Regions from separate parts of the Homo sapiens genome. Here all the other regions are linked to region 3. Evidence: fine-mapped expression QTL. A gene starts in region 3. Each other region holds a variant in brackets. All regions are shown on one strand. Distances are between the middles of the regions.

What was found. PIP is the estimated chance that this variant, and not a neighbour inherited with it, causes the effect. A credible set is the group of variants that fine-mapping cannot tell apart.
Region 1: its variant is the best candidate, but not a certain one, in a credible set for the expression of ARFGEF2 in whole blood (INTERVAL, PIP 0.59).
Region 2: its variant is the best candidate, but not a certain one, in a credible set for the expression of ARFGEF2 in whole blood (INTERVAL, PIP 0.54).

Annotation. Positions count from the first base shown.
Region 1 is chr20:49,034,568-49,042,750 of GRCh38, forward strand. It overlaps ARFGEF2 (ARF guanine nucleotide exchange factor 2), which reads left to right. Exons shown (of 39, transcript NM_006420.3): 39 at 1-2,126. CSE1L-DT (CSE1L divergent transcript) reads right to left here. Exons shown (of 2, transcript NR_110625.1): 2 at 5,896-6,043. It also overlaps the pseudogene SNAP23P1. Among named protein-coding and RNA genes, the nearest start is that of CSE1L-DT, 7.4 kb to the right of the region's middle. The variant A/G (reference allele first, on the strand shown) is at 5,094.
Region 2 is chr20:49,053,387-49,061,569 of GRCh38, forward strand. CSE1L (chromosome segregation 1 like) reads left to right here. Exons shown (of 25, transcript NM_001316.4): 2 at 5,067-5,162. The coding sequence starts at 5,078. Among named protein-coding and RNA genes, the nearest start is that of CSE1L, 11 kb to the left of the region's middle. The variant CTGTGTG/C (reference allele first, on the strand shown) is at 3,461.
Region 3 is chr20:48,918,230-48,926,412 of GRCh38, forward strand. ARFGEF2 (ARF guanine nucleotide exchange factor 2) reads left to right here and starts at 3,482. Exons shown (of 39, transcript NM_006420.3): 1 at 3,482-3,781. The coding sequence starts at 3,661. RefSeq lists silencers at 3,243-3,322, 3,553-3,652, 3,693-3,742 and an enhancer at 4,113-4,192.

The DNA.
Region 1 (8,183 bases), 120 kb after region 3:
GAGCGTTAGACAAAGTGTTACACAGAATGATTAAAACTTTCAGACTTCTACCTATGCTCTTTAGTCCTGTAAATTGGGTTGTATTGATGTCAACTCTGGTGCCTTAGAAGTTAGTAGTTTGGGAACCTATCTGTAAAATCAGATGTTTTTTCTTTGTAGAGAAGGATTTCTGGTGCTTTTGCTTACTAAGAGACCGATATTCTTAAGTTGTTTTCTTGTTTTAACAGCCTTGAGAAATGTTTGGTTTTGGCCAGCAGAATTCTTGTCTACTTTTTTCTTTCCCAAAAAGTGTTTTTTAATTTCTCTACCAAAGAAAAAATGAGCAGGTTTAGGTTTTTACATGACTTATATACATTAGATAAAAGGAGCTGTATAATTTAGCAGGAAGGGACTATGGGAGAATACTTTACTGTGAGTGGAAAATGTTAGCACATTTGACTGGTTTGCCCTGGAATCCACTGCACCTTTACACTGCACCATGAAACCTACACTCCCTGGTATCATAGCGCGTCATCACCTCAACAAGTCAGTCGTCTCCATTGATATTTGTACAAAAGGTATACATGGGGAACACGTGTTCATTCATTAAGTCCATCTTGCGTGCAGCTATATCCCTGATTGGTTATTTTTCCTTTCCTTCTGAGGTTCTCATGTCATTTTCTTCATCGGATGTGACTAAAATTTTTCTGGTGTCTTCTGCCCTCTCTTTAATTTTGCCTCTTGAGGGGTAGCAGATGTGTCAGTGCATTTTATTACTTGCTGAAACATTCAGGCTTACATTTCTTATTAGTTTAGTATTTTAAAAGATTTAATTTTCTGAATGAGGCATTTGAATTGTACCAGCAATGGACTTTTAAAAAATTGGATGTAAAACCATTCAGGGTGATTTTTCTTGTCAGTGGACAGTGACGAACAGAGATTTGAAATCCCTTACCTCCAATAATAAGCCATTCAGCCTAAATTCATTTTTATGAATAAATCTCTTCTTTCTCATGGTAAATGTGGCTTGTGCCACTCAAACACTAGTGAAAGGGTATGTACAACCGCAACATCAGGCCAGGACACCATTTATTTAACCAAGTAATGGAGGAGAGTGAAACATTTTCCAAGGCCTTATTTCTTTTTCAGAATGCTTTAAGTGTTGATTATATGTGCTGGGTCTCTAGAGAAGTTTTTATTTGTTACAATACTGCTGCTTTGAGCAATTTTGTTTCTCTTCATTGTCTGTTAGGGAAATCACCAGCTTTGGCATCTTAACAACAAACAGTGGATGGGTAATTTTTATTTCTGATACGCATCTTTAGAGTCAAATATATCTTTTCCCTGTACTCCTCATGTACAACCAAAGAACATACATTATGAAAATTGTATTATAATATCTGGAAACACAACATTTTCCTCTGGCAGGTGACTTTTGTACGAAATGAAAAAAAAAAAACCTGTATTTTTTTTGTTGTTCTTTTGTGATTAAGGATATACATTTAGTAGTCTTTGTTATTAAAGGAACCTGCTGATAAGTACAAGTGTGACCATCTCATTCAAATGTTTGTTGTTATGATGCAAATGGATATTGGTTTCAATAGAAGCTGGATCCTTAATACTGCATTTTCTGAATTCTGTTTTAATATTTGTGTTAAAGTAGACATAGCTGAACTCACATGGAATCCTGGAGTTTTGTTATCAGCAGCTTTGCAGTTTGGGAAACAAAGAAACCAAAGCTGAGTGTTTTAAAGAATGAACATATCTGGAAATCCTTGCTCTCAAAACAAAACAATATAATCTATCAAAGGTGTTTTACTCAGTGTTCTAATTTTTAAAAAATTTTATCTGCATATTTGCATCAAATATTTATGTGTAAAATGTATGTTTTACCTCCTTAAAATGCCTAAAAGTTAGTTAATAGTTACTTTGGTTTAACCTATACACAATGATTAAGTGCATTTAATATTGGTAATTTAATGAAAACCATTCCTTGCCCAATGGATGTATAAATTTTTGAAAGAATAAGCAGAATTATATAATATGAAATGCTATGTAAAGTTTTCTATGTAAAAATATTATGTATAATACTATTAAAATATCCCATGCTTTGATCAGGTGGTACATCAATAAAATTTTAAAAAGTATAGCTGTTTCTAATGTGTAGTAATTTAAAAAACATATATCAAGCCGTAGTTTTGGGTCAGTTTATGTCCCTCACCAATGAAAGGGGGAAAATTCTAGTCATGAGATTCTTTATATGCCTCTTGAATCTATTAACTTTGTTGTTGCTAGTTACAAAATGTAATTGTAAGGATCAAGTAGTGGCTATTGGTTCAGCCAGTACACATTGACAGCTTTGAAATATTCAGATGCTAATTTATTTATTTATTTTTGAGACAGGGTCTTGCCCTGTAGCCCAGGCTGAGAGCAGTGGTGCAATCACAGCTCACTGCAGCCTTAACCTTCTTGGTTCAAGTAATTCTCCCACCTCAGCTTCCTGATTAGCCGGAACTATAGGGCCAGTAGTGAGACACCTTGCCTGGCTAATTTTTGTATTTTTTTGTAGAGTTGGGGTTTCACCATGTTGCCCAGGCTGGTCTTGAACTCCTGGCCTCAGTGATCCTCCCACCTTGGCCTCCCAAAGTGCTGAAATTACAGGTGTGAGTACCACGCCAACTGAGATGCTAATTTTTAAGTCAATGTGACAAATACTAATCAGATTCCCATAACAGTGTTTAGGATCTACATAAATTTGATTCTGGACATAGTTCTATACACAAGGGTAAGAGACTGACAGTGTAATTCCCCAATAATTAAACTAAAGGTATAATTTTCCAAATCACTTTTAGTAACACAATAAATTCTAACTTTTTTTAAAAATAGAGATGGGGGTCTCACTATGTTGGCCAAATTGGTCTTCAGCTCCTGGGCTCAAGTGATCCTCCCACCTCAGCCTCCCAATGTATTGGGATTATAGGTGTAAGCCACTACATCCAGCCAATTCTAACTTTTTAAGTCTAGGGTCTGGCATGGTGGGAGGATTGCTAGAAGCCAGGAGTTTGAGACCAATCTGGGGAATGTAGTGAGACCCTATCTCTACAAAATAATAATAGCAAGTGTGGTGGCACACGCCTGTAGTCCCAGCTACCCAGGAGACTGGGGTGGGGAGGACTGCTTGAGCCCAGGAGGTCGAGGCTGCAGTGAGCTTTGTTTGTGCCACTGCACTTCAGCCTGGGTGACAGCCTGTCTCAAAAAAACAAAAACCAAAAAAACCTTCTGGCCACAAAGCAAAAAGTTGCATAGCCACGGTAAAGATTTAGTTGGTTATAAAGTTGTAGTTATTGCCACTTTAAGCTAATACTTCGTTTTGGAGCTTTTATACACAGTATTTTTGTTAGGGATCACAGTTCTGCAACCTCTGCTCCAAAAAGAATGAGTTTTCTTAAAGGGAGCTTAACTTCTGAAGTCTTAGTGATTCATAGGTGTGCATAGAATGTGTGATTCCACATCCCAGGTGGAAAGAAAGCAATCTTTCCACCTCAGCCTCCCAAAATGCTGGGATTACAGGCACGTGCCACCATGCCCAGCTAGGTTTTTGCTGAGGTTAACCTCTTATCTCTTGTCCCTCCCTCCACCACAAAAACCACAAACAAAAAACACTTCTACAGCTTCCTTCTTCTTGGCTGTCTTTGTCAATGTTTCCAATTTTTTTTTTTAAGAGACGTGATCTTGCTTTGTCACCCAGGCTGGGGTGAGTGGCCTCATTGCAGCTGACTGCAGCCTCAATTTCTCGTGCCCAAGCCATCCAAAGTTCTTTGTTCTATTATGTGGACAGACACGAAGGGCATGGCATTTGTTAAGTTCTGTTAAAGTCTTCTCTGCCTCTCTCATGTCTGTATTTTTGTGGCCCATGTCTTCTATGTGGTTGAGTTGTTCCCCTTGTTTATCCAGTATTGTGATGATCTTGATTCCTGCATCCTGAGACTCAATGGCTAAACCCAGGATTCTCCTTGTACTTTCTAGAGACTCATCAGCAACTTGGTGAACCCTCAGATGAATTCTTTTTGATTCAGGATCTTGCTGTGGCTCCCAGGCTGGAGTGCAGTGGCAGTGGCACCATCATAGCTTACTGCAGCCTCAAATTCTTGGGCTCAAGCAATCTTCCTGCCTCAGCCTCCCCAGTAGCTGGGACTACAGGCACACCTCACTATGCCCAGCTAATTTTTTTAAATTTTATTGTAGAGACAGGGTCTTGCTACGTTGCCCCAGCTGGTCTCAAACTCCTAGGCCCAAGTCATCTTCCCACCTCAGCCTCCTAAAGTGCTGGAATTTACAGGCATGAGCCACTGGACTTGGCCCTGAATTTCTTTTAATGACAGATTATCCATGATGAATCAAAACTATCAGGCATGGGCCAGGTGTGGTGGCTTACACCTGTAATCCCAGCACTTTGGGAGGCTGAGGCGGGCAGATCACTAGAGGTCAAGAGTTTGTGACCAGCCTGGCCAATGTGGCAAAACCCTGTCTCTACGAAAAATACAAAAATTAGCTGGGCATGGTGACACACACCTGTAGTCCCATAGTCCCAGCTACTTGGAAGGCTAAGGAACAAGAATCACTTGAACCTGGGAGGCCAAGGTTGCAGTGAGCTGAGATCACACCACTGCACTCTAGCCTGGGCCACAGAGCAAGATTCCTCAAAAAAAAAAAAAAAAAAAAAAAATTACTTGGCTAATTTTTGTATTTTTAGTAGAGACTGGCTTTCACCATGTTGGCCAGGCTGGTCTCAAACTCCTGACCTCAGGTGATTTGCCCGCCTCTGCCTCCCGAAGTGCTAGGATTACAGGCCTGAGACACTGCGCCCAGCCTCTGAAGACCCACTTCTACTGCACACCTGTCATAGGCAGAAAGCAGCCCTGGGCTCCTGCTGCCCTCTGAGAGAGTCCTGGAAGGTACTCTGTCCTTGGCCTTTGGGCCACATTCCATGGACTCCTGGTAAAGTCTCACTTCTCCCTTCCCTTCCACCAAAAGAGGAAAGAAGGAGAATTTAATGGCTGGGCACAGTGGCTCATGCCTATAATCCCAACACTTTGGGAGGCTAAGGCAGGAGG[A/G]TCACTTGAGGCCAGAAGTTTGAGACCAGCCTGGGAAACGGTGAGACCCCATCTGTCCCCCTCCCCATCTCCCCATCAATGAACTTTAGTACTTTCTCCTGCTAGGCTTTCCATATTGATCATGTTTTTGACTCTTGCTATTTCAACCATTCTTCAGCCATTAATTCGCACAATAACCCCCGTAAAGTAGGTACTATTATCATCATCACCAGCATCCCTCCTTTTTATAGAGGGGTACGGGCTCAGAGAGGTTGACAAACTTGACTTAGGACACTCAGAGGGATTTGAAGCCCTGCAGCCTGGCTCTAGAGCCCGCCTCCTAAACATTGCCCAGATCTAGCCTGGCACCGTGCCTCACACCTGTAACCCCAGCTCTCTGGGAGGCCAAGGCAGGCAGATTGCTTCAGCCCAGGAGTTCGAGACCAGCCTGGGCAACACAGTGAGACTTGTCTCTATTTATTTATTTTTTATTTATATATATATATTTTTTGAGATGGAGTCTGGCTCTGTCGCCCAGGCTGGAGTGCAGTAGTGCAATCTTGGCTCACTGCAATTTTGGCCTCCCAGGTTCAAGCAATTCTTGTGCCTCAGCCTCCTGAGTAGCTGGGACTACAGGTGCGTGTCACCGTGCCCAGGTAATTTTTGTAGTTTTAGTAGAGACGGGATTTCGCCATGTTGATCAGGCTGGTCTTGAACTCCTGACCTCAGGTCGTCTACCCACCTCGGCCTCCTAAAGTGCTGGGATTACGGGTGTGAGCCATCGCATTCGGCCTTGTCTCTATTTAAATAAATAAATAACTGCCCAGCTCCACTTCCAATTTATTTCTTCCACTGCAACCTTGATGCTCCCTTCAAGTCTTGCCCTGGAGAGGAATCTCACACAGGGGAAGGGCTGCTCTGATGTGCTGGAGAGCAGATGGACAGCGGTAGATAATATGGGGCCCTGGCTCCTGTGGACAGAGAACACACTTAGCACAGGACTAACATTTGCAGGCTCTAGGGCAGAAATACAAATGTCGGCTCCCATGCTCTGAGGGTCAACATTGAAAAACTATACGTAAAACTTTTGAATAAGACAGTCTATCTTCCTTCCTTTATAAATGTACCTTTGTAAAGATCTGGAAGGGCAGGTCAAAGATGGAATTCTCAGGCTCCTCAGAGCTCCACACCAGAAAGCAGCAGCACCGGGTGGCTGGCCCAAGACCAGCACCCTGCTCTCTCCACCTCAGGCTTCACCCTGCACCATAAGGCTTTGCATGTGTGCATGGAAGCCCATTCCTGTCCAAACTCCCTGCAAACCCCTTTCTGACCCAAGTCACCCTTCCAGCATGGGAGTGCTCACAAGCTGCTGTGCAGCCCACCCTCTGAAGAAGTGACCCAGGCAAGGGTATCCACAGGCCAGGGCCCTATGGGTTGGGAATTCCAGGGCCCTGTCCAACTGCAGTGTGGTCTCAAAGGGAGTGGCATGGGTTCTAGATGTGCACACCCATTCGGCTAACGGGCAGGAGGGAGCAGCTGGAGGAGGGCCAGGACGAAGCCCTCTAAAGCAAGGGCACGGCAAAGGTCTGCAGGCTTGCCCAGGTCTAAGGCAGGTCTAAAAATCCCACTTGAAGGGATGGAAAAAATATAATTTCCCATCAAGAAGCATGAAAAATACACTTCTAGGTCAGGCGTGGTGCCTCACACCTGTAATTCCAGCACTTTGGGAGGCGGAGGCAGGTGGATCACCTGAGCTCAGGAGTTCAAGACCAGCCTGACCAACATGGTGAAACCCCATCTCTACTAAAAGTACAAAAGTTAGCTGGGTGTGGTGGCACATGCCTGTAATCCCAGCTATTTGGGAGGCTGAGGCAGGAGAATCGCTTGAACCTGGGAGGCGGAGATTGCAGTGAGCCACTGTAATCCCAGCACTTTGGGAGGCCAAGGTGGGTGGAACACTTGAGCCCAGAGGTTTGAGACCAACCTGGGCAACACAGAGAGACCCAATCCCTACAAAAAAAAATTTAAATATATACATTTAAAAATTTTTAATTAAAAAAATATAAAATAAGGAAATAGAGGACATAATATATTACCTACAACTTATATCCTAATTAATAAAGGAGATTTCCCATTTTGTATGAGTAGATTTGTTTTTTTGAGATGGAGTCTCGCTCTGTTGCCCAGCTGGAGTGCAATGGTGCAATCTCAGCTCACTGCAACCTCTGCCTCCTGGGTTCAAGCAATTCTCCTGCCTCAGCCTCCCAAATAGCTGGGATTATAGGCACACAGTACCACGCCCGGCTAATTTTCATATTTTTAGTAGAGATGGGGTTTCACCATGTTGATCAGGCTAGTCTCAAACGTGTAGATTTTTATAACATATAAACATATATTTAAACAGAAATAAGCCAGGTGCAGTGGCTCACGCCTGTAATCCCAGCATTTTGGGAGGCCAAGGTGGGCAGATCACCTGAGGTCAGGTCAAGACCAGCCTGGCCAACATGGTGAAACCATCTCTACTAAAAATACAAAAATTAGCTGAGTGTGGTAGTGGGCGCCTGTAGTCCCAGCTACTTGGGAGGCTGAGGCAGGAGAATTGCTTGAACCTGGGAGGCGGAGGTTGTAGTAAGCCAAAATCGCGCCACTGTACTGTACAGCCTGGGCAACAGAGTGAGATTCCATCTCAAAAAAAAAAAAAAAAATTAAAGTGCCTCCATTTTAAAAAAGATAAGAAACAACAATCAGATACTTCTCAATGTTTAGCTGTTAACACTCTTCTGCATCTCAGTTGGGCTTTAAAAGCGAGATTGAGACATAAGACTTGTTCTTTCCCAGCATAACCAGATGTGTCCACGCCCTTCTGGATCCAAATAAAATGTAAAGTTATCTTCCTCAAGGAGCACACCATAGACAATGTGTCTTTTCAGAATGTCTTTCCTTACATTAGACAGATTGGGGTTTTTTTTGTTTTTGCGCGGGGGGACAGAATCTTGCTTTGTCGCCCAGGCTGGAGTGCAGTGGTGCGACCTCAGCTCACTGCAACCTCTACCTCCCAGGTTCAAGTGATTCTCCTGCCTCAGCCTCCCAAGTAGCTGGGATTACAGGCAC
Region 2 (8,183 bases), 140 kb after region 3:
TCTCTCTTGTTGCCCAGGCTGGAGTGCAATGGCGCAATCTCGCCTCATTGCAACCTTTGCCTCCCAGGTTCAAGCAATTCTCCTGCCTCAGCCTCCCAAGTAGCTGGGATTACAGGCATGTGCTACCAGGCATGGCTAATTTTTAGTAGAGACGGGGTTTCACCATGTTGGCCAGGCTGGTCTCAAACTCTTGACCTCAGGTGATCTGCCCCTCTCAGCCTCCCAGAGTGCTGGGATTATAGGTGTGAGCCACCACACCTGGCCCAAACTTTCATGATTTCATAACTGATCCACCATTTCAATACAGAAAAAAGGAATAGGAAAATAAATGGATTAAATCATTGCTTTCCAAAGTGTGTTCTATTGAAAAGGAGTTCTATAGCCAAATAATGGGAGAGACTGGGCAATCCTCCCACCTTAGCCTCCCAAGTAGCTAGGACTACAGGGCCACACCACCACGCCCGGCTAATTTTTTGTATTTTTAGTAGAGATGGGGTTTTGCCATGTTGCCCAGGCAGGTCTTGAACTCCTGGGCTCAAGCGATCGTCTGCCTCAGCCTCCCACCAGTGGAGACTCTGGATTAATTGATGTGAACCAGTAACTTTGTGAGTTTAAAGTGCTTTGTATTGTGAATCTCCAAAGTGGGGCAGGATATAATGTGTAGCATTTTCCAAACTTGTGATATAAAAAACCATAAAGGGTATAGCCTCTCAATAGATTGTATGTGTGGTTTAATGGGACTTGATTTTCACACCTATAGAGTGGAACACCTGGATTAGAGGGAGTGATTAGGTAGGTGGTGGGATCTACTCAGTCAGAACATTAGCTTCCTGTGATAAACACATTTTCTAATTAAGGGGAAGGACTGCAGCATGTAGAATACAGATAATTCTCTTTAGAAGGTTGGGGTTTCTGGCTGTTGGGGAGTGCCCTGCATAAGCACAGCATTAGATAATATTTTCTTATTTTCTGGCTCCCCACCGCTCAGTTGTCCTCTGGCTGCCCTCTTTTCACATCAGCCTTTCTATTGTGTTGTGAGTGCTTTCACTCTTGGTCAGCCGTCTGTCATTTCCACCTAAGAGGCAGCCTTGGGTAATAGAAAGAGGGTAGACCTACGGAGTTGGACTGATTTAAATCTGATCTTTATTTATTAACCATATATAGTTAATATATGTCAACCTGAGTGCCCTTCTTTGTGTGTAAAATCATTGTGTGGAATAAATGATATGAAGCCTATGAAAACATCTAGCATCGTGTGCCTGGTTCATACATGTGACACTTCCCCCATTCTGCAAACCATTACCAGCCCAAAGGTCCTCTACTCCACTTTCATTACATTTTTACCCACTTAAGAAAACCTTCATGACTTCCCCATACATTAAATCATGGCACTCTTCAGCCAAGTATGGAGGAACCTATATGATCTGGTCTTGATCTCCTAGCCCACTATTCTCTCTTCCCATCTCTGTTACTTTGCTCTCACAATTCATTTTGGCAGATGCGCCCTCATCCTACTTTGCCTATTCAGATACACATATTTTTCAAGGTTCAGCTCAAGGCTCAGGCTCTGGGAAACTCTTGGATGGCCACATAACCCCGTGACTCCCTTCTTAATTTTCTAACGTTTAAGGTGCTGTCTTTGTGATTCATTTGGCACTTCAGAGGACAGATGTTTCAGAATTTGGGATTTTTTTTGGATGCATGTACTGTGGATTATACAACATCCCCAGTGGGGCTTGGGGTAGCACCCTGTAATCAAACGTATTGATATTTCTTTAGTGAAACAAATTTGCATACTAAGTGAGATAAATCTATGTTGATAGCCTCAGGCAGTTCAGGCTGGTTTTGCTGCCAAGTGAGTTTGCCACAAACTTGTTAAAAAACAAACTTTTAAGTTTTTTTATTTTTGGATTTCATCACTTTAGTAAAGGGTATATAGGCCTGTACTTGGCATTTCAGTTGTGTCTTGTCTTCTGAACTATTACAGAAGCTCCTTCTAGGACAGGAACTTGATTGCATATTGTCATAGGCATTTTAAAAATAAATGGGTCCCGGTATGGTGGGTCATGCCTGTAATCCCAGTGTTTTGGGATGCCGAGGCAGGAAAATTGCTTGAGGTCAGGAGTTCAAGACCAGCCTGCGCAATATGGTGAAACCCCATCTCTACAAAAAATACAAAAATTAGCCAGGCATGGTTGATTGCGCCTGTAGTCCCAGCTACTCAAGAGGCTGAGGTGGGAGGTTGGGGCTTGAGCCCTGGAGGTTGAGGCTGTGGTGAGCTATGATCATGCCCCTGCAGTCCAACCTGGGCCACAGAGCAAGACTCTGTCTGAAAAAATAATAAAATTTTTTAAATTCCTTACTGTAAATGTATAATAGATATGTGATTGTAAGATTAGAAAAGTATGAAGAGAATAAAACTCTCCTTATATCTATCACCGAGATGTTATCACTGTTCTACATTTTGGAGTGTGTTTTTTGTTTTCTTCTATATGTGAAGTTTTTTTTCATAATTTGAATTATGATATCCTTGAACTTTTTCCACTGACCTTTTTTACATTTTACAAAAATTGTGTGTTTAGTTTTTTTCTTCTTTTTCATAGAAGCCTCTGGTTAATTTGGTGCATGATTTCCCTGAAAGGGCTCCACTTTCCCATCTACATGTGGCTATATATCTAAAAGCTGCCTAATGGAATCTAAGCATAAGTGGAGTTTTCTAAAATCGCTTTTTTTTTTTTTGGAGACAAAGTCTCGCTCTTTCTGAGGCTGGAGTGCAGTGGCACAATCTTGGTTCACTGCAGCTTCTGCCTCCAGGTTCAAGCGATTCTCCTGCCTCAGCCACCCAAGTAACTGGGATTACAGGTGCATGCCACCATGCCCGGCTGATTTTGTATTTTTAGTAGAGACGGGATTCACCATGCTGGCCAGGCTGGTCTCAAACTCCTGACCTCAGGTGATCCACCCCCCTCAGCCTCCCAAAGTGCTGGGATTACAGGCGTGAGCAACCGCGCCCAGCCTAAAATAGCTTTATTGAAGTACAATTTACATACTATAAGATTTATCCATTTTAAGTGAACTGTTTGGGAAATGTTAGTAAATTTATGTAGATTATGCATGTGTCACCACAGTCCAATTTTAGAACACTCTGTCACCCCCAAAAAGTTCCCTCAGTTTGCACCTAATTTTATCGTCTCACCAACAAGTTGGAGACCATAAAGCTCAATTGATAAGATTCCCAGGATTTGTGATCTGTTGGTAATCATGCACATCTGACACTTGTACTCTGTGTATGTGCTGTTTCTGTGTGTTTTTTCATTTTCCTTTTAATTGAGTGGGTTCAGACTCCTTTTTTTCCCATTTTTAATGGACAAAATTGTATATATTTGTGGTATGCATGTTTTGAAATATGTATACATTGTATAATGGCTAAATCAAGCTAATTAACATATTACTTCACATG[CTGTGTG/C]TGTGTGTGTGTGTGTGTGTGTGTGTGTGTGTGTGGTGAAAGCACTTAAAATATACCCAGTAATTTTCAAGTGTACAATACATTATTATAGTCACCTTGTTGTACAATAAATCTCTTGAACTGTGTATTTCTTAGCCTATGTTGTTAGTAGTTAAATCGACGTAGGCCATTTAGTTAGCTTAAAATTTGTGGGCTGGGCACGGTGGCTCACGCCTGTAATCCTAGCACACTGGGAGGCCAAGGCAGGAGGATCACTTGAGTCCAGGAGTTTGAGACCAGCTTGGGCAACATTGTGAGACCCTGTCTCTACAAAATTTTTTTTTTAATTTGTCATCTGTTAGATGTGAAGTTTTTTGGTCAGTTATAAGCATATTATGTGATTTAGTTTTGTTTAAGCTTTAAATATGAAAACTTCTAGAATCATAATCTTAGCTGTCATCTTCTGAACTCTAGAATTTATCTCCCTAGATGCAAATTCTTAGCACTTTGTAGTATTTGCGATTACATGTTGTACATGAAGGAATTTCTTGTTTCTTTAATCTCAGAACTTTATGTGGGATATTTATTTGCTGTTTAAAATTTTAATTTCTCGTTGTGGGGCCTTTTTTTTTTTTTTTTTTAAGACAGGTCTTGCTCCATCACCCAAGTTGGAGTGCAGTGGCACCATCTCAGCTCACTGCAACCTCTGCCCCCAGGCTCAAGACATCTTCCCACCTCAGCCTTCCGAGTAGCTGGGACTGAAGGCACCCACTACCATGCCTGGCTAATTTTTTGGGTTGGTTGGTTGGTTTGTTTTGAGACGGAGTTTTGCTCTTATCGCCCAGGCTGCAGTGCTATGGTGCGATCTCAGCTCACTGAAACCTTTGCCTCCCGGGTTCAAGCGATTCTCCTGCCTCAGCCTCCCAAGTAGCTGAGATTACAGGCTCCTGCCACCATGTCCAGCTAATTTTTGTATTTTTAGTAGAGACGGGATTTTACCATGTTGACCAGGCTGGTCTCAAATTCTTGACCTCAGGTGATCCGCCTGCCTCAGCCTCCCAAAGTGCTGGGATTACAGGCATGAGCCACCATGCCCGGCTTCAATTTTTTTGTAGTTTTGGTAGAGATGGGGTCTCACCCTGTTGACAGGCTGGTCTCTTAACTCCTGAGCTCAAGCAGTCCACCCACCTCAGCCTCCCAAAGTGTCGGGATTTACAGGCCTGAGCCACTGCCCGGGCTCCTTATGGGGCTTCTTTAATAAGTTCCTCCAGTGATTTTTTTTTTCTTAACCTTTATTAGCCCTTTCCCATAGCATTAAATCATATAAACTTCTTGGTGACTTCGAGCAGTCCTTCAGCTTTTTTTTCTATGACTATCTTTTTGAAATTTTGGGATTTTTTTTCATCTCCCTTATCACAAAATTGTCTCACTATTGTTTTTGGGGGAAAAGGCACATCTCATTTGCTGGACTCTTGTCTCAGAGTCAGGTTTACTGCCCATATAAAAAACAACAGATGGATGACTTTCAGAGAGAATAACCCATAATATAAACGGATTTCTTTAAATGTAAATCACTTTTTCCGTAAGTGACCAGTTATCCAAACCTTATTTTATATTTTAGATCCTATAGCAATGGAACTCAGCGATGCAAATCTGCAAACACTAACAGAATATTTAAAGAAAACACTTGATCCTGATCCTGCCATCCGACGTCCAGGTAAAGAAAATAAACGTTTTTTGGTTGATTAATTCCTTCAGGACAGGTGAGAGAAACCTATGTATTATCTGCCTCCTTATAAATATATTTTAAAAAATTCATACTTGGGTTCTCAAGCGTAGTTTATAAGTGTTACAGCTGCTATACCATGGTGTGTTGTTTCTTTTTTGAGTAAAATAGCTTTTATTTGGCATCTTCTGGGATTAAAAAGTACTAGTTTTCGGATAAAAAGTACTGACATGTTTAGAATGCTTTGTCTTTGACCTTTTCCAAAATACCCACTTAAAACATGCCTGCTTTAGGCCGGATGCGGTGGCTCACACCTGTAATCCCAGCACTTTGGGAGGCTGAGGCAGGCGGATCACGAGGTCAGGAGATGGAGACCATCCTGGCTAACACGGTGAAACCCCGTCTCTACTAAAAGTACAAAAAATTAGCCGGGCGTGGTGGCGGGTGCCTGTGGTCCCAGCTACTCAGGAGGCTGAGTCAGGAGAATGGCGTGAACCCCGGAGGCAGAGCTTGCAGTGAGCCGAGATTGCGCCACTGCACTCCAGCCTGGGCGACAGAGCAAGACTCCGTCTCAAAAAAAAAAAAAAGCCTGCTTTAGAGATAAAATAATTAGGGCATAGAAAGGAGAGTAATTGCCTAAAAAGTGATTAAGTGAATGAAGCCAAGTAATCAGTTACTGTCTCTTAATTTTAATTTTCTATTGGGTTTGATTTAACTAATATATTTTAAGACCTAGAGCTTTTTTTTTCCTTCCTGAATCTGACCAGATTCCATTAAAAACGTAGAATTAAAATATTGAACTCAGGTGTTCACAGGACTCAGCTGTTAAGTTAAATGAGGGAGATAGGCCAAGTGGAGACTGGTAATATCAGGAGAATACATGCCCTGATTAAGTGGCAAGTACTTTTTGGAACTAGCTAATTTTGGGGATTCAGACTAGTTTTGCAAGATCAGATTTCCAGTTTTGCTTGAAAAATAAGGATATTTATATGAAGTGCCCTCATTTTTAAATGTTAGCAAGTAACTTCAAAAGATTTTGGGGCCGGGTGCGGTGGCTCACGCTTGTAATCCCAGCACTTTGGGAGGCCGAGGTGGGCAGATCACGAGGGCAGGAGATCGAGACCATCGTGGCTAATATGGTGAAACCCCTTCTCTACTAAAAAATACAAAAACTTAGCTGGGTGTGGTGGCACACACCTGTAGTCCCAGCTGCTCAAGAGGCTGAGGCAGGAGAATTGCTTGAACCTGGGAGGTGGAGGTTGCAGTGAGTTGAGATTGCGCCACTGCACTCCAGCCTGGGTGACAGAGCGAGACGTAGTCCCAAAAAAAAAAATATTTTGAAACACAGCCAGGGTTGGTGGTCACGCCTTTAATCCCAGTAATTTGGGAGGCCAAGGCAGGAAGATCCCTTGAGTCCAGGAGTTCGAGACCAGCCTGGGCAACAAAGCAAGACCCTGTCTCTACAAAAAATTTAAAAATTAGCCAAGTGTGGTGATGTGTGCCTGTATTCCTAGCAACTGGGGAGGCTGAGACAAAAGCTTCACTTATACCCAAGAGGTCGGAGCTGCAGTGAGTTATGATCATGTCAGTGCACTCTAGCCTGGGTGACAGAGGGAAATCTTGTCTTAAAAAAAAAAAAAAAAAGGCCAGGTGCATTTGCTCACGCCTGTAATCCCAGCATTTTGGGAAGCCAAGGCAGGCGGATCATGAGGTCAAGAGATCTAGACCATCCTGGCCAATGTGGTGAAACCCTGTCTCTACTAAAAATACAAAAATTAGCTGGGCGTGGTGGTGCACGGCTGTAGTCCCAGATACTTGGGAGGCTGAGGCAGGAGAATTGCTTGAATCCAGGAAGCGGAGGTTGCAGTTAACCGAGGCCACTGCACTCCAGCCTGGTGACAGAGCAAGACTCCGTCTCAAAAGAAAAAAAAAAATTGGACAGGCACATTTGCTCACGCCTGTAATCCCAGCACTTTGGGAAGCCCAGGAGGGCAGATCACCTGAGGTCAGGAGTTTGAGACCAGCCTGGCCAACATGGTGAAACCCTGTCTTTACTAAAAATACAAACATTAGCCAGGCATGGTAGCATGTGCCTGTAACCCCAGCTACTTGGGAGGCTGAGGTGCAAGAATCGCTTGAACCCAGGAGGTGAAGGTTCCAGTGAGCCAAGATTGCCCAACTGCACTCCAGCCTAGGTGACAGAGTGAGACTTTGTCTCAAAAAAAAAAAAAATTGAAATACAGTGCAAGCCAAACTACTTCTGGGCCAGATATATCTTGTGAGCAGTCAGTTATTGATCCTTGATATGGGCCATATTAAAATGCTCTTGACCTGTTTCTTCAAAACTTACCAATGTGCATGCTCATAGAGGATGTTGGAAGGGTTCCATGAGGAAGAGAATGTGTGTTATATATTATGTATGATGACTAGAATCATGAACATGTTAATGCATCTATCCTCTTCTAGAAAAGTCTTTGTGATTTTTGAGAGGAAAAATTAGTTTATTAGTGTATAAAGAAGTAATGTGTTCCTGGATAAAGGGAAGTTAATGGCTCTAATCTTTAATCTTCTTAGACTTTCAAAGAAAGCTGTTGCCAACACTATTAAAAATTTTTTTTTTTTTTTTTTTTTTGGAGACGGAGTCTCCCTCTGTCGCCCAGGCTAGAGTGCAGTGGCGCCATCTTGGCTCACTGCAAGCTCCGCCTCCCGGGTCCACGCCATTCTCCTGCCTCAGCCTCCTGAGTAGCTGGGACTACAGGCGCCCGCCACCATGCCTACCTAATTATTTGTATTTTTAGTAGAGACAGGGTTTCACCGTGTTAGCCAGGATGGTCTCCATCTCCTGACCTCGTGATCCACCCGCCTCAGCCTCCCAAAGTGCTGGGATTACAGGCATGAGCCACCGTGCCCGGTGGAAAAATTATTATTATTATTTATTTATTTATTTATTTATTTATTTATTTTTGAGACAGAGTCTCACTCTTGCCCAGGCTGGAGTGCAGTGGCGCCATC
Region 3 (8,183 bases):
GATCACTTGAGGTCAGGAGTTGGAGACCAGCCTGGCCAACATAGTGAAACCTCGTCTCTACTAAAAATACAAATAAAATTAGCCAGGCGTGGTGGCGGGTGCCTGTAATCCCAGCTACTCAGGAGGCTGAGGCAGGAGAATCGCTTGAACCTGGGAGGCAGAGGTTGCAGTGAGTGGAGATCACACCACTGCACTTCAGCCTAGGCGACAGTGCGAGACTCCATCTCAAAACAAACAAACAAACAAACAAAAAAACTACAGCAAAAAACATTTTATATGTAAAGCAGATTTAGATTCTAGGCTCAGATCATTATCAATAAGTTTTTCATCTCCAGGAGTGTCTGGCCATGTGGCATACATTGAATTGTTTGTTACATAGGATTGTTCAGCTCTCTGCAGGATGTTATCTAGCATTCCTGTTCCCTCTATTACGACAACAGAAATATCCCCCCAACAAAATTTCAAAATGCGTCTGGGGGTGGTACTGCCTTCATGGAGAAGCACTGATTAAGAGGGACAGAAAAATGTAAGACAAGCCCTTGATGGGAACAAAAAGGAGCCCAGAGTGGCCAGAGTCCTGAAGAAAAGCAGGAAGGAGATGAGCTCAGAGAAAATGGCAGGGCCTCTATCACACCTTGTTGGCCACAGTATGATACTGAACTTGGACTCAATTCCAAGGGCAATAGGGAGCCTCTGTTGGATTTTCGGCAGGGGAGTGACATAGTCTGGCCTTGCTGTGTGTGTGTGTTGGGGGGAGTGGGGTGGGATCAAAACATGTTACTCAGCAGACTGCACTGTACTCTAGAGAATTTCATTCATTCATTCATTCATTCAACACATAAGGATTGAGGTGTGTCTCAGTGATCTATTGCTGTGTAACAAGCAAGACCCCAGAATGTAGTGGCATAAAGTAATGATTTTTTGTTTTCTGCTATTCTGTGGCTCAGCTGGGCAGTTTTTCTGCTGGTCTCACTAGTCACTTGTGCTGCTGTATTCAGCTGGTGGGTCGGCTGGGAGAGCTGCAATGACTGGGCTCCCTATCCACGTGCTCTTTCTTCTGGGGCTGCTACCATTTTGTTGTTATTATTGTTGTTGTTGTTTGAGACAGAGTCTTGCTCTGTCTCCCAGGCTGGAGGGCAGAGGGGCAGTCACGGCTCACTACAGCCTCCACCTCCTGGGCTCAAGCAATCTTCCCACCTCAGCCCTCCAAGTAGCTGGGACTACAGGCAGGCATCACTATTCCTGGATAATTTTTTAAATTTTTTGTAGCATCAGGGTCTTGATATGTTGCCCAGGCTGGTCTCGAACTCCTGGGCTCAAGTGATCCTCCTACTTCAGCCTCCCAGTGTTGGAATTACAGGCATGAGCCACTGACCTGCCCAGGGCTGCTTCTGAGTGTCATTCAGCATTCCCAGGCAGTAAAGGAAGAAGTGAGCCAGGGCTGTTGATGCTCTGGGACTTGTGCAGCCTCTTTTCTGTCACATTCTATTGGTCAAGACCAGCCACAAGGCTAGTCTAGGTTCAGGCTGGTGGAGAAACAAACTCTACCTCTTGCTGGGAGTGACTGCGAAATCGCATTACAAGCAGTGGAACTTGCAGAATTTAAGGCCATGAAATATTCAACGTGACTGTAGACCGGGCCCTGGGGATATGGCCTGCCCCTCTGCAACCGTGCTTTAGTGAGACAACAAATAGTCAACACGTACAAAAGCTCAGAAAGTGCTGTGGAAAACATCAGCTAGGGAGAGAGGGGGCTACTTGAGACAGGTCAGGGAAGGCTTCCCAGAGACGTCTGAGCTAAGACCCGAGCACTGGAGCATGCCTGCCTGGGATGTCTGTGCCTCTGAGGTTTCCAAGGAAGACAACTGTCTTTGCATAAGCCCATGGCTGCCCTTGGGGGAAGGGGCCCAGGGGACACCACTAATGGTTGCTGTGATAGCATCATTGTGGAATGGAGTGGAAGCTGCCTTGGGGCCAGAGTATCTGTCCCCCAGCACTCATTTGCAGGCTGTGTGACACTGGCCATCTGGGTTTCTTCCCCTGACTCCCAAAGCCCAGGTCCAGTTCACTGCACTGTGAGGGTTCACAGGTTTATAACAGGATAAACTACAGAGAGAGGTCAGTGCTTCCTGGTATACTATGCACAGCTGCGACACTCAATAAACAGAAGTTCACTGAACTGCAAGGTCACTGCTGCTGTGACAGGAGGGTCATATGGATGTGTGTATCTTGCCAGTGGCTGTGGTGAAACCCTGCTTGTGGAGAATAGACATAAACACACCTTCTCTCTCTCCCTCTCTGTCTTCCTTTCACCTCCCCTCTCCCTCCACCCCTTCCATTTCCTATTCTCCCAGCATGTTCTTTCCACTCTTCCTCACCTCCTTCCCCTTCACCTCCTTCCTACACCATTCCTTTTTCCATCTCTTTCCTGTTTTCCTAACTTGTTACTCTCATCTTTTTCTTTCTTTTCTGTTCTTCCTGACAGCTCCCCTTCCTACCTCCTCTCCCTTCACCCTTTCTCCTACTCTTTCCCCTCCTCTCATTTCTACCTCTCTTTCCTTTTCACTTCCCCTCTCCCTCCTGTCTTTCTCCTTTTTCTTTTACCTCTGTGCCTCCCTCTCACCTCTTCCCACACCACCTCATCTCCTCCATAACTAACTCACCTCCTTTTTGTTTGTTTGTTTTTTGAGACAGGGTCTCCTTCTGTGGCCCAGGCTGGAGTGCAGTGGTGCCATCACAGCTCACTGCGGCCTCAACCTCCGAGGCTCAAGCGATCCTCCCACCTCAGCCTCCCCAGTAGCTGGGACCACAAGCAGCGCCACCAGGCCCGGCTGTTTTACTTTTTATTTTGTAGAGAAAGGGTCTCCCTATGTTGCCCAGGCTGGTCTCGAACTCCTGGGCTCAAGCGATGCTCCCGCCTTGGCCTCCGGAAGCGCTGGGATTAGAGGCGTGAGCCGCCGCGCCGGGCCTCCCCCCTTCCCCTCCGCCGCCGCCTTCTCATCGCCCTTCCTCCTTCCTCCTGACGCCCCTTACTCCCGATCACTTCTCATTCATTCACCAGCTTCCAGTCCTCGCTCCCTCACCTCTTTTCTTTCCTACTCGCCTTCTCCTCCTGCCCCTTTATCATCTCTCCTTGTCACCGTTCTTTTTTGCCAATCCTCTCGTTCCCCTTCCTTTCCTCATCTCCTCTCTTACCCACGTCATCTCCATTCTCGTGCTCCCCTTCACCTCCCGTTACCTTGCGCTTCTCTCCTCTCATCTCCATCACCACCTCTCCCCGCTTTCGCCTTTCTTTAGCCCCCGCGTCCCCTATACCCTTCGCCCATGCCCACTCCCCTCCCCACCTTCTCTTCTTCCACCCTCCACCCTCGCCTTCTGTCTCTCGCCCACCTGACTCCGCTCCGCCCCCAGCCTTAGGCTCCGCCCCGCTGGGGGTCACGGGGCCGACGGACGCTAGGCGGCCGTAGCGGCCTCGCCAGTCACGTGGTCACGTGACGCGCTCCAACATGGCGGCGCCGTGGGGCCGAGGTGTCGCTTCCTGACGGGGCGGCGCGGACGGACGCGGCCGGTGCCGGCCGGGACGCCGGGCCCGCAGCCTAGCTCGCCATCTCGCTCACGCCGCCCGCCCGCGGGGCCGTCAGCCCCCGCCGGGCCGGGGCCATGCAGGAGAGCCAGACCAAGAGCATGTTCGTGTCCCGGGCCCTGGAGAAGATCCTAGCCGACAAGGAGGTGAAGCGGCCCCAGCACTCCCAGCTGCGCAGGGCCTGCCAGGTGGCGCTCGGTGGGTGAGCCGCTCCCGCCCTGCCCCGCGCTGGCCTCAGCACGTCGGCCGTTGCCCTATCCTACTCGGCCTTGGCCCGGCCTCCTGGCCTCCGCTTCCCCCCGATCCCGAATTCCACCCTTCCGGCCTCCTCCTCATTATACCCCCGGAGGAAGTGTTGCCCGGGCAGCTCGGGACTGGCCCAAGGTCACCTAGCAAGTTGGTGACAACCAGAGCTTGTTCCTCAGGGTTCCAGCTCAGGGCTTTTGCCACGATTCCTTGTCGCCCTGTTTCCTGGTTCCTCCCCTCACCACCTCCAAGTCCTAGAAACAGTAGCCCTTGCCCCAAGTTTTTTCGTTACCTGAGCTCTGCTGATTGGGGTTCCCCTAGGTGAACAGAGCATGTAGGAAGAGCCGTCCAACTGGTTTAGGGAAACCCCTGATTCTTGTTTTGGAAGTGCCCGTTGGAGAATGTTTTCCTTTGGTTTGGGGATCTCCCATAGCTCTTTCCCTCAAGGAAGGATTGTAGAAGGTGTTCTGGATCTCCCAGGCATTGTAGTGAGCAAGACATCTGCTTATTCCTAGCAGTCCACTAAAATACAAGGTCTTCAGCGCGAAGATACTTGTCTGACTTATTCATTGCTGTATCCCTTGCGCTTGCAACAGTGCCTGGCGCACAGTAGGTGCTCGATAAATATTTGCTGATTGAATGGACCCTCAGATTATGGAAAGAGGGAGAATTCTAACTAATAGTTAAAGGCTTGATAATTGATAGCAAAATCACTATCCTATCTTTCAGTTTTAATCATTTAACAAATATTTATCAAGTGCCCACTGCATACCAGGTACTGAGAATTCAGTGGGGAACAAGACGGACATGGTCCTTACCCCTATGGAGCTTATACTCGAATAGAGGAGACAAAATAATTAATTAAGAAAATAGGTGAGGTATTTTGGAATACTGATAAATACTATTTTGAAAATAAAACAGCAAGATGTGATAAAGAGGGCTTGAGGACTGCTTTCCATGGTCAGGAAAGTAATCTTTTCCAAGAGGAAAAGTAATCAGGTGGTCAGGAAAGTAATCTTTTCCAAGAGGGTGACACTTGAGCTGAATACTGAAAGGCAAGAACTATCCACCATATGGAGTTTCAGAAGAGAGTTCTTGGTGGGAGAATCCATGCATTTGACCAGAGCTGTTTTCAAGCTAATTCACTGCCCCAACGTCTTTGGTTTGGAATCTGTAAAGGCCTGTTTTTCCTAACAAAATGAGCAAATGGAAAGTTTGATTTTTAGTCACATAGTTTGAGATTGTTATCACCTTTCTCCTTTCATTTGCTACAAAGTATAGAGTAGTGTTCTTTTGGCATTTAGAAATAGGCTGGTGAACTTTGCACTTCCCTGGAAAGAAGGTCCCTGGCTTTCATCAGATTTTCAGAGGGCCCTGAGACTCCCTCAGGGGCCAACTATTGATGCAGAGGTGGTAGTCTAGATAATCTGGAAACAGTTGCTAGTCCGTGAAATTCAGGATCAGTGGAAGGAATTTACTGAGATGTAGATTTTTAAAGCTTTTCTCTTCCAATAACCAAGGCTGTTGGGTATTTTATCAGCAATGTGGGATAAGCACTGCAAAGCAGTTTGTTAGGCAAGAGCCTGGTATTTATAACTCCACGTTGAAATCTGCCTGGACTCTATCTTCTCGATATTGTTGTGGAGGTTTCAGAATAGTTATTTGGCAGAAGAGTTTTTATTTTTTCTTCAGAAAACTTCTTAACATAAAATTTTCACCAAAGTGTGCATCATATTATTGGAACCTACTTATAAAATTTTCATCTGGGTCATGAAGGGCCATTAACGCTGAGAATTTAATAGATATTTTCGGATCGTATCTTTGTTCAGAAGTTCAAGTTTTCCTAACACAAGTAGTGGAATGCATGTTTTCAGTTTTTAGTAGTGAATTGTAAAAAATGGCCTAGATAGGAAGTAATTTGACTACAGGTTATATGAATCACAAATTGGGGTTGTGCCAATGGCATAATAGGAACTGTCATAAGGGAACGTATGCATATTGTTAAGTGACCATCTTTTTTAAGAGAATAATTGTGTGTCATTGCTGTTAAATAGAAATGACTGCTTTTACTTAGAGTAGAACACATAGCAGAATGCCTGGTGATATTTCTCTCTGTCTCTCAAGGCCCAGTCTTGTGTCCAGTAGTCCCATTTAAGAAGAGAAATTTGGGGCCAGGTGCGGTGGCTCACGCCTGTAATCCCAGCACTTTAGGAGGCTGAGGCAGGCAGATCACGAGGTCAGGAGATCGAAACCATCCTGGCTAACACGGTGAAACCCCGCCTCTACTAAAAATAACAAAAAAAATTAGCTGGGCGCTGTGGCGGGCACCTGTAGTCCCACCTACTCGGGAGGCTGAGGCAGGAGAATGGCGTGAACCCAGGAGGTGGAGCTTGCAGTGAGCTGAGATTGCGCCACTGCACTCCAGCCTGGGCGACAAAACAAGACTCTGTCTCAAAAAAAAAAAAAAAAAAAAAGGCTGAAACGAGCCAGTGTATAAGGAGCAGCTATGTGGTATTTTAGAGATTACCATGTATAGATTGTTGTTAATTGTGATAAGAGGAACTGTAAATGACGGCTCAAAGTTGAAATGCTTGGATGATAGAGAGCATTTACAGGAAACAGCTTCTGTGATATGATTCCACCAGCTGTAGCATATTAGGGGAGAGGATCAGGGCTGCAGGGACTGTATAGTGTAGATGTTAGCTAGGAGTGTATTCTTTGGGACCCTAGACTTCTGTGTTCAAACCTCCTGCCTTCCACTTGCTACGTTTGTGATCTTGGACAAGTTACTTCCTTATAGGATTATTGTAAAGATTAAGTTAATTGACATGTGCAAAAAACTTGGCATGTAGTAGGTGCTCAGTAAATGCTTGCTATTACTTTTTTATTATTATTATTTTAAGCTGTGACAAACCACAGCAGCTGTAATTACTCTGGTTTGATGTTCTTAACCTTAGTTCCTCGTTCAGGAATGACTTACTGCTCTATTTGGTTTGTAGATGCAGTAAATAAGAATGTAATTACGTGATTGAAAGGCTGTGTTGGAGTATTAACTTCCTAAACTCAATGAAGACAGGGGTTGTCCTTTGTAAAAATTGTGATAATCATGATGGAGCAGATTTGGAGTAATCTCAATGATTCGTCCGCACTATACACCAAAAGCATAAATAGGGACTGCCCAAGTAGGGGATAGTGCCCTTCCAACCTTTATCTGGAGAAATCAAGACAGCCTGTGAGAGTATTCATCGCCCCAAGGATACTGTTGCTCTTTACCTTGTTATGAAACTTTGATATATATTAATAATCTTCAACCTTTCAGCCCTCTGTTGGAGAATATAATTACATTCTTAAACCTCCCTTTTATAATTGTCTTATTTAAGACTCATCTTCTCCCATCATGTATCTTTAAGTTATGTTTCTGCTCTTAAACTATATGAAGTTTGGAGGCTTAATAGGATAATCTATTTAAAATTCGATATGGAAAAATTTATCTATGGCTGGGCACTGTGGTTCATGCCTGTAATTCCAGCGCTTTAGGAGGCCAAGGTGGGCAGATTGCATGAGCCCAGGAGTTTGAGACCAGCCTGTGCAACATGGCAAAACCCCATCTCTAAAAAAATATATAAAAATTAGCTGGGTGTGGTAGTGCATGCCTGTAGTCCCGGCTACTTGGGAGGCTGAGGTGGGAGGATGACTTGAACCTAGGAAATGGAGGTTGCAGTGAGTTGAGATCATGCCATTGCACTCCAGCCGAGACAGCAGGGTGAGACCCTCACACAAAAGTGCTAAGTAATGGCTAGGTGCTCTATAATTACTAGTTGTCATTATTCTCAGCCATTATCAAGAAAATTTAAAAAGAATAGTAAACATACGTATTTTCATATGAAATTGAATGACTTTTAAAGATCACATGTTGTATTATATCTCCTATGTACTAAGCATTTCTGAGTTCCAGGCACAGTAAAGTGGGCTTTTCATGCAATTTAGTTCTCACTATTATCATCATTCCCACTGAGGCCCAGAGAAGTTAAGTTGGCCAGGGTAACTCAGTAAGTGATGGAACCAGGGTATAAACACAGGCAATCTGGCTCCATAGTCCAAGATCTTAACTATTACTACCATGTTTTCTTGCTTCTCCATATGAAAGTTGTTATGTTTGAAATACTCAGTAGAGTTTTTAAAACAATCAGTATACCGCAGTGGAGTTTCAGGAGACTGTATTTTCTATAGCTGAATTTTGAGATATGTTTGAAAGCCTTGAGTCAAAAAGATCACAGCTCTTTTCTTCAGGTTTTTACTACATATATACTAGGTTTACTTTAATTAGGGGCTAATGGAAAGAAGGAAATGAGAG